3 separate regions of the Homo sapiens genome follow, and all the other regions are reported to be linked to region 1. The links are microRNA targets in miRTarBase. Many come from high-throughput screens and were not tested one by one. Region 1 holds a microRNA gene; each other region holds the end of a gene's coding sequence.

Region 1 (3,147 bases):
GCATGCTCTGCAAATGTATTATTGCCAAGATCAGCATCCACCTAAACGTTGCTTTTCTTAAACGGTAACCCTCTAAAAGGAAGCACTTTCTTTTCTTTCAGACAACAGAAAGCGCTTCCCTGTAGAGGGACACAGCCTGACATCTTCTTGCTGTGGCACCGTGGATTTTTTGTTGGAATCTTCCTTAACCAGGTTAAAATGGACTCGAAAAGAAAGATGCATTTATTTGCCCTGTTTTCTATTTGTGTGTTTTCTGGAATCCAGAATATAAACCCCTAAAAGGACAATCTCCAGTTCCTTCCTTCAAAGAATCAGCAGGTTAGCCTTGTTTATCAAGGGGCAATCCTCCTGAGTTTTGTCTGCAAGAGAAAGAGCAATACCTGCTAGACATACCTTATCTTTAACCAAGGGAACTGGGCTGGATTTCTAGAGAACAGCAATGGACGGAGAGCCAAGTGTTCACCTGAGTTTCAGTACAGGGACACACAGTCCCCATGCAAGCATCCAAAATGGAACATAACATACTGAAGAATATACATTGTCATAGACACAAACATTCTCCAGAGAGACCACAGGCTATACCATAAAAGCTCCCCAATAAAATTTGAGCAGAAACACACAAGTACAGGTGGGGCACGGTGGCTCATACCTCTAATCACAGCACTTTAGGAGGCCGAGGTGGGAGGATCACTTGAGTTCAGGAGTTCAAGACCAGCCCAGGCAACATGGAGAAACCATGTCTGTACAAAAAATACAAAAGTTAGCCAGGTGTGGTGGTGCATGCCTGTAGACAGCTATTCAGGAGGCTGAGGTGGGAGTTGGAGGTTGCAGTGAGCCGAGATTGCACCACTGCACTCCAGCCTGGGCGAAAGAGTAAGACTCTGTCTCAAAAATAAATAAAGGAAATTACAAAAATTAGCCGGGCATGGTAGCACATGCCTGTAATCCCAGTTGCTTGGGAGGCTGAGGCAGGAGAATCGCTTTTACCCAGGAGGCAGAGGTTGTAGTGAGCAGAGATCCTGACACTGCACTCCAGCCAGGGCCACAGAGCAAGACTCTGACCCAAAAAAGAGGGCCACTTGAACCCAAGAGATCTAGGTTGGAGAGGGACCACCACACTCCAGCCTGGGCAACAGACACCCTGTATTAAAAACAAAACAAAACAAACATGAAACACCAACATCATCCACGTCTGATTATAAGCATTCTCTGCAAATTTATTACCAAGATAAGCATCAACTTCAACGTTGCTTTTCTCAAAGAGTAATCCTCTAAAGAGAAGCGCTTTCTTTTCTTTTAGACAAGAGAAAGTGCTTCCCTCTAGAGGGTCACAGCATGAGATCTTCTTGCTCCAACACTCTGGGTTTTTTGTTGGAATTTTCCTTCACCCGGTTAAAATGGACACAAAAACAAAGATGCATTTATTGGCCCTGTTTGCATGTTTTCTGGAATCCAGAATATAAACCCCTAAAAGGACCATCTCCAGTTCCTTGCTTCAAAGGATCAGCAGGTTAGCTTTGTTCATCAAAGAGCAATCCTCCTGAGTTTTGTTCTCAAAGAGCAAAAGCAATGCCTCATAGACATATGTACCTTATATTTAACCAAGAGAACTGGGCTGGATTTCTAGAGAAGAGAAATGGATATTGAGCCAGGTGTTCACCAGAGTTCCAGCACAGGGACACACAGTCCCGATGGGAGCATCCAAAATGGAATCTACGATGTTAAAGAATATACATTGTTGTACACACAAACATCCTCCAGGGTAGATCACAGGCTAGGCCCTAAAAACTCCTCAATAAAATTTGAACAGAAACACACAACTACAAGTGGGGCACGGTGGCTCACACCTCTAATCCCAGCACATTAGGAGGCTGAAACTGAAGTATCACCTGAGCTCAGGTGTTCGAGACCAGTCTCGGCAACATGGTGTAAGCCCATGTGTATAAAAAATACAAAACGGAGCCAGGTGTGGTGGTGCATGCCTGTAGACACTAATTCAGCAGGCTTAGGTGGGAGGTAGAAGTCGCAGTGAGCTGAGAGAGATGGCACAACTGCACTCTAGACTGGGTGACAGAGCCAGACCTTATCCAAAAACAAATAAAACATACACTCACACACACACAAACAAACAAAAAAAACCCCAAAGTGATATAAGAGTATTCTCTTCATGTAGAAGAGTATTTTGCACGTATATGGTATTATATATATAAGAATATATAATGGCCGGGCGGGGTGGCTAATGCCTGCAATCCCAGCACTTTCGGAGGCCAAGGCGGGAAGATCACCAGAGGTCGGGAGTTCGAGACCAGCCTGACCAACATGGTGAAACCCTGTCTCTACTAAAAATACAAAAAATTAGCCAGGCGTGTGGTGCATGCCTGAAATCCTAGTTAGTCGGGTGGCTGAGGCAGGAGAATCACTTGAAACTGGGAGGCGGAGGTTGAAATAAGCGAAGATCGCACCACTGCACTCCAGCCTGGTGACAGAGTAAGACTCCATCTCAAAAAAAAAAAAAAAAAAAAGAAAAGAAAAAAGAAAGAAAAATGCAAGTATTAGCCAGGCGTGGTGTCAGGTACCTATAATCCCAGATACTCAGGAATCTGAGGCAGGAGAACGGCTTGAAACTGGGAGGTGGAGGTGGCAGTAAGCTGAGATCACGCCACTGCACTCCAGCCTGGGTCACAGAGTAAGACTCTATCCCAAAAGAGAGGACCATTTGAGCCCAAGAGAGCTAGGTTGGAAGTGCCACCACATTCCAGCCTGGGCAACAGAGATCCTGTCTTAGAAAAAAAAAAAAAACAGAACCCCACCTTCATCCAAGTCTGATGATAAGCATGCTCTGCAAATGTATTAGCAAGATCAGCATCAACTTCAATGCTGCTTTTCTCAAAGGGTAACCCTCTATAGGGAAGCGCGTTCTTTTCTTTCAGACAACAGAAAGCGCTTCCCTCTAGAGGGTCACAGCATGAGATCTTCTTGCTCCAGCACCCTGGGTTTTTTGTAGCAATTTTCCTTGACCAGGTTAAAATGAACACAAAAATAAAGATGCATTTACTGGCCCTGTTTGCATGTTTTCTGGAATCCAGAATATAAACCCCTGAAAGGACCATCTCCAGTTCCTTGTTTCAAAGGCTCAGCAGGTTAGCC
Region 2 (3,147 bases), not on the chromosome of region 1:
ATTAGCTGTGTATGGTGGTGTGCACCTGTAGTCCTAGCTACTCAGGAGGCTGAGGTGGGAAGATTGCTTGAGCCCAGGAGTTTGAGGCTGCAGTGAACTATTACTATGCCACTGCACTCCAGCCTGGGCAACCGAGCAAGACCTAATCTCTATAAAAATGAAAAAGACCCTTCCTTCCAACAACGTTAAACCACTAGAGATGTTTCGTACTCCCTACAATTTTTTCTCTCTTTCTGTTCACAATACATTGGGACTTACAGGCAGAGTAAGAGTCAATGGAAGCTATGGTAAGAAAGTCAACAGAGGGCTGGAGGAACAATACCAACAGCTAGGATTCTCTACTCCCAGATTTGCTAACAAGCATTGATTTGCTCCACTGATATACAACACAATCTGAGGGAAGATCATTGAAAATCTAGGATCTTTTGGTCTAAAGTTGGAATCATGGGGAGGCATTTTCTCAACCTTGTTCATGTCTCTTTCCTTTGCAGGGCAACAGGCTTTGGCTTCTTAAATGCGCTATGCAAGGCAGCAGCCGTCCTGGGAAACTTAATATTTGGCTCTCTGGTCAGCATCACCAAATCAATCCCCATCCTGCTGGCTTCTACTGTGCTCGTGTGTGGAGGACTCGTTGGGCTGTGCCTGCCTGACACACGAACCCAGGTTCTGATGTAATGGGAAAAAAAGCCATCCTTCCTGCGTTTCTTCCTCCTGCCCTGGGTCAATTCTCCTTCCTGACTCAAGGCTTCAGAGTTTTCCTATATAGAAAGGTGATCAAGTATCAGAACATAAACACGTGCTGTGACTTAAAATTTAGAAGCATATCATCTTGCCCCTTTGTGATTTTGCACAGGTTGTTTGTTTGTTTTGTTTTGTTTGAATGCATTGTTATCTTTCCAAACTGTGATGCTACTGCCTCCCGCAAATCAGTGGAAGCATTTCTAAAATGCCCTAGGCAGCCAGGCTTCCCTGGGGTTCTGCTCATTGAAAGTTTAGAAGCTAAGAAGACTGGGCTGGTGTAAGAAATAGATCCTGCTCCTAATTTAACATTAACAGGAAATATAAGTCGGCACATTATTGCATTTGTGCTGAGAAGAGGGATTCTTTTTTTTTTTTTTTCTAACAGAGTGATATTTCCTGTTTACTTAGAAAAGGACACCCAGTAATTCTCACTGTTATAGCAGAGCCTTTCAAAGAAAACCATGTGGCACCAAACAGGGCTGGGTGGGGCTCTTTGGGGCAAGACAATTAAGGTGACCGCTGACAAGAAAAATAAAAGCTCTGCAATTAGCAGCAAAAATCTGAGTGTGCTGCATAAGCAAGATTTCTGTCAGAAAGCCCAATTAAACCTCTGAAAAGTGTGAGGAAAAAGAACTGTAACAGTATCTGTGACTGTGGCATGTGGTTCAGAATGTTTGAAAATCAGAGATCCGAGAGAGAGCTTCTGCCTCCATTTACCACTCCCACTCCTTCAGCTGCCCTTGGTCTTGCCAGACAGCAGATTCAGGGAAAGAAAGCTGCTTCTTAAAAACTGTCTGCCTACCTGATTCTGCCACTTACCCACACTGTCTCTAGTCTAGAGATTGCCAGTGGATAGCTAAATTGTAAATTGCAAATTAGGAAGAAATTCACACCCAGAGCCATTTGGAAATACAAAATGGTACCTCTTTCCAGTACCTCTTTGCTGTGGGACTGGCCCGCCAGGACCCCCACCCCACCTGGCCCGCAGTTGACATTCAGCTTCCCAGCTGGCATCAGCAAAGAGGGTTTGTCCCTCTAGCTTCCCCAGGGCTGGCCCACTGCTCAATGCGCTCCTGGCTCCCTGTAAAATCACAGCCCGCCTGCACTCCTGAGGGCCCCTCTCACAGACAGACCATCTCCCTGTGGTTGTTTGACTGCTCATTTTACCTCTGGAATCTGCCTGGGCTTGGAAGAAAGAGGTCAGCCAGGACATTCCCACGGGCCCGCTGTCAGCTACATGACCTTCTCGCCTCTCAGGCTCCCCTTCCCCCAGGCTCGTCCTTTTTACACCTCTTCTTTGAAATCTGAACCTTCCTTGTAGACTTGCAGCCAATGACCAGAAGCCAGGAATAAATCCCATATTTAAACAATATTCCTTTTTTAACTGCCTCGATAGAGGTTTATTCTTGTTACTTATTATAGGCATTTTCAGGCAAGCCATAGCTTGGGGCCTCCAGGAAGGGAAAGCTTTTGTTTCCACTGATCATTATTTTCAGAGATGTCCTAACTCCCCTGAGGCCCCCCTGCCTCCCCCTCCCCTTCCTAATGATCCCTCGCAGAGCTCAGACTAAGTGAAAAGCTTCTTTCATTAACATAAGCCATTAATCGACTTCCCCTTGAAGTAATTCAGGTCTGCAGAGGGGGGAAGACTGGTGTTGGGGGCAGTGGGAAGAGGGTGGTTCCCTGGGGGTCTGTGATCAGGGCTAGAACATCAGGAAAACCCGAACCAAAAACTGCAAAGGTGGCAGGAAGAAGAAAAATCACTGAAGGCTAGACAAGATGCATTTGAAAGATACCAACCGCACAGGGAAAGAAACAACTTTCTCTCACTTCTGCCTCCTATCATTTTATTGGAGAACAAAGACAGCAGTCAAACAACCCAAGAAAGTACCCTGTATGTTTTTCTTCTTCCACATGTACCCATTTTCCCACCTATCTCTCCCTGATTTGTCTTCTTTAAAAAGACATTTGGGGACCTGAGCAGGTCTTTTAGTTGAATGCAGCATGTGCAGAAATAACTGCAAAAGCCAGGAGTGCATCTCCATCAACCCATCAAAAGAAAAATAGAAATGTACATGGGCATCGCTGTCTCTAGTCCTCTGTGATAGTTCACTTTGCTAACTAGACTACCTTTACTTTTCAAAATATCTCTAATGTCTGCTCTGGGGTCTAAATGCATAAAACATCTCCCAAGCTGCAGAGCACAGTTATTCAGAATTTTATTTGAACACTGGGTTGGGTCAGCATAGGATAAACCAGCAAAACCTTACTTCATGAGACCTGCCATCCGTGTCCCCTGCAGAAGGACCGTTCTTGGCCTACTTGTTACCTAATCCAAGCATCCTTGGTGGCCTAAGAGGGATCTTTTCTCATCTCCTGGACAGTCTGTGGTCACAAACCTTCTTG
Region 3 (3,147 bases), not on the chromosome of region 1:
GATCCTCCCGCCTGGGCCTCCCAACCATGCCTGGCTAAAAGTGCCTCTTATTTATAGATGTGTTAGCAGGTCGAACCTTGGACAAATCTAAATTGGAAAATGATCTAATATTAAAGTAAACTGTATGTTTCAATGGAATATTACCTTTATATGTATCGCTAAGCCTATGTTTGCAGATAAGAAAAAGCACAGGTTTACTTTAAGAAAAAAAAAAAAAACAATGTTTATGGAAGCGAAATCTTGTGCTACAAAGCAACTACCCTGAAACTCACTGTTATTAATTTTTACCCACTTATTATCATAAAAAAACTAGTTCTCAGATTCTGCATACAGACAGCTTTATGTAAAATATATAAACATTTGTCCAAATTGGTACACAGATTGCATAAATATGGCAATTAAGATTGCATTTACAGATGTGCATGTACAATGCTGTGCAAATTATCACAATATTACAATTTCAGAAATTATTCAAATTGGTATCCAAGTAAAGCAATTAGTGAAAAAATACCCATGCAGAATTTAAATATCTCAGAACAAAATTTAAAATGTCTTCATTAAAAGTTCACACATTTAAAATAGTTTTATTCATTTTATTTGTATATGTCAAAATACATTTTTATTTCCAAAATAGTGGGTTTTGCAACTAGTTTCATGCAGAAACAAGGTCTGCTCAATACTACCAATAAAATCAATATAGCACAGTAGCTGTTCAGTTTTAGATACAAAGAATAAATAACCTAAATACAAAACACTAAAATATTAGAAACATGTATTTAATCATTCTTCACAGGCATCCAAACTTCACAAATATAAACCATAGCATGCCTAACTGTTGTGCAACCAGAACATGTTGCAGTCACTCAAACTGATCAGTTATCTGTATATTTTACCTCCACATAAGACCATGGAAATTCTCAATATTCAGACCTACCATTCATACAGTTCAAATATAACCAAAAATAAAACTCCCACAACTATCCTTGTACCTTTAAAATCAAGAATCCTGAGCTTGGTAGTAAGAGCATAACCTTATATCTTCATAAAACCAATCGAGAGAGAGAGGACTTAAAATCCTGCTTACCAAAACACCCTTCCCCAACCCCAAAGTAATCTAAAATAGGCAGTAGAACACAATGACCTTTTAAAATGAAGGGGTACAAATTCACATTTAATATAGTATACAATACAATCAATAATACAATCAGCTACTATAAGCTTTACAATGTACAATTTATTCAAATGGCTGAACTGTTCAGTGGTTAAGGAGACAGTTATGTGCCAGAAAGATGTAGTATTTTTTGCATGGTTTAATGAAAATATAAAAGCTATTTGTCCAAATAAAAGCCATCGTCACTATGTACTTGGTTTTGCGCTTTTTTTTCCTTAAAAAAAAAAAAAGGCCACTGAAATGTATAAAATGGTCTGAACATGATGGTGGTATCAAAGTCGATGCCTCTTCACATGGCAATAACAGTGCATTTAACATTAACTCACGGGTTAATTCTGCAAATGATTTCATAGCATTACTTTGGCTAGCACAACAGTTTTAGACAGCACTCAGATAAATATAGGTATGTGAAATGTAAAGCAATTATCTTATGCAACTTTAATTATGGTTGAGTACTATCAAGTGAAAACTGAAAATAAAAGCACTTTACAGTAGGAAACTTTTGTAAAGATAGGGCTCCACATAATGTGTAACTTTTAAAGTCTTTATATCACATTGTTAGCAAATTTTGTTTTTTAACACTATCATGGAGTAGCCTACTCTGCATTAGCAGACATTTGAAATAAGAAATAGTCAAGCATGCCATGTGGTGGTCTAAAAATCAAAACAATACACTTATTTGTATATACAGCATCACTCAGTACCTGCTAAAATGAATGTGAAGATTACAGAATCTAACATCTTATACTACAATAAAAAAAAAGTGACCAATGAAGCAGAAAATAGGAATTAAAAGATCTAACCTCAAATGACTTTAAAGCATTCATATAAGAAATAAATGCATATTGCACAAACAGTGAAAGCATATGTTCCACCAAGCAATTCAGTTCCAGGTGGGAGACAACACAGCATTAGCCTAATACATGACAATAATCACAGAAGAGCAAGTGTTCTTTTCTGTAATGAAAAAGCTGTGAAAACATAGAAGACTCTGCCACATGAAGAGTTTAGAAGGAAAAAATACAAACCCAAACTTAGATGAAAAGCCAAAAAATTTAAATATCGAAAAACTCGAAACTGTGGCACATCAAAAAATGTTGAGTAACTGTCTTCTGTGAGAGCTGAAAGTTTTTGTTGACACAAAAGTATTTATGTACAACTAAGGCTTACTGGTTAAATATCTGAGGCATATCTGGCCTTGAACACTTTCCTTATATGCTGGAGCTGTAAACAAGTTTTCTCAGTCATTAAAAAAAAATCTTCTCAGCAGCTGCATTAACATGAAACAATGGTCTTGATTAAAAAAAAAAAACAAAAAACAAACCAACAACAACAAAAACACCCCAGAAAATTAAACAAAATGAAACAAAAATTCTAGATAAGAGGGCATTTGGCAGGATATCCGAAAATGACAGTCTCCAAGGATTCTTCCCAGACTTCCAGTGACTGCCAATTATGGTCCACTGGGTTACTAATATGTGCAATTCCATTACTTGCTGCTTTTTTTTTTTTTATTTGGAAAGTTTGCTTATAACTCTGATCAAGGCCCCATTTTCATCCTTTAGCCTCTGGTTGTCTGCTTTTAGGTCTGGTAACATCTATAAAGAGAAAAATTGAAGATCAAGTTTTACCTTCAATATTAAAAGATAAAACATTATTCTTAATAAATGTTATATTTTCACCACAAAACACATGATCAAGCTTTGTCAGTTATATATATTTCTAGTATCTAAAACATGTATCAGGAAGAAGGAAAAAAACCACACCTGGATTTGTAAAGCTAATTAGTTTCATAAATGCTGGAATGAAAGGTTTATTCTCTCCAAATTTTCCATTGAAATTTACTAAATCACTTGATTTTATGACTCACAAGCACACCACATTCCAGCAGCCAAGACAAGCCTGTTTTTGTTAGGATAGGCTCTTAAAAGAGGTTCCTGTCAGCACCTAAACCAAAGACTTTTGCTTTTATGTAT

What was found. Region 1 holds the annotated microRNA hsa-miR-518f-5p (CUCUAGAGGGAAGCACUUUCUC, at 1,305-1,326, opposite strand). A microRNA usually pairs through its seed, bases 2 to 8, with sites in the 3' UTR of a target mRNA and lowers its output. Matches are read on the target gene's strand: a 7mer-m8 pairs with bases 2 to 8, a 7mer-A1 pairs with bases 2 to 7 and ends in A, and an 8mer does both.
Region 2: miRTarBase lists SV2C as a target of hsa-miR-518f-5p. The part of its 3' UTR that is shown has no 7-base or 8-base seed match.
Region 3: miRTarBase lists PPP1R12A as a target of hsa-miR-518f-5p. Seed matches in the 3' UTR shown: 7mer-A1 at 2,544-2,550.

The regions. Positions count from the first base shown.
Region 1 is chr19:53,698,209-53,701,355 of GRCh38, reverse strand. It overlaps MIR518F (microRNA 518f), which reads right to left and starts at 1,341; the gene lies at 1,255-1,341. MIR523 (microRNA 523) reads right to left here and starts at 2,971; the gene lies at 2,885-2,971. It overlaps MIR520B (microRNA 520b), which reads right to left and starts at 129; the gene lies at 69-129. It overlaps LOC107985346 (a long non-coding RNA gene), which reads right to left and starts at 686. Exons shown (of 5, transcript XR_001753998.1): 1 at 650-686.
Region 2 is chr5:76,324,873-76,328,019 of GRCh38, forward strand. SV2C (synaptic vesicle glycoprotein 2C) reads left to right here. Exons shown (of 13, transcript NM_014979.4): 13 at 492-3,147. The coding sequence ends at 675. Among named protein-coding and RNA genes, the nearest start is that of SV2C-AS2, 15 kb to the left of the region's middle. RefSeq lists an enhancer at 560-1,059.
Region 3 is chr12:79,773,247-79,776,393 of GRCh38, forward strand. It overlaps PPP1R12A (protein phosphatase 1 regulatory subunit 12A), which reads right to left. Exons shown (of 25, transcript NM_002480.3): 25 at 322-2,769. The coding sequence ends at 2,683. All of the region lies in intron 5 of PPP1R12A-AS2 (PPP1R12A antisense RNA 2), which reads left to right. Among named protein-coding and RNA genes, the nearest start is that of PAWR, 84 kb to the left of the region's middle.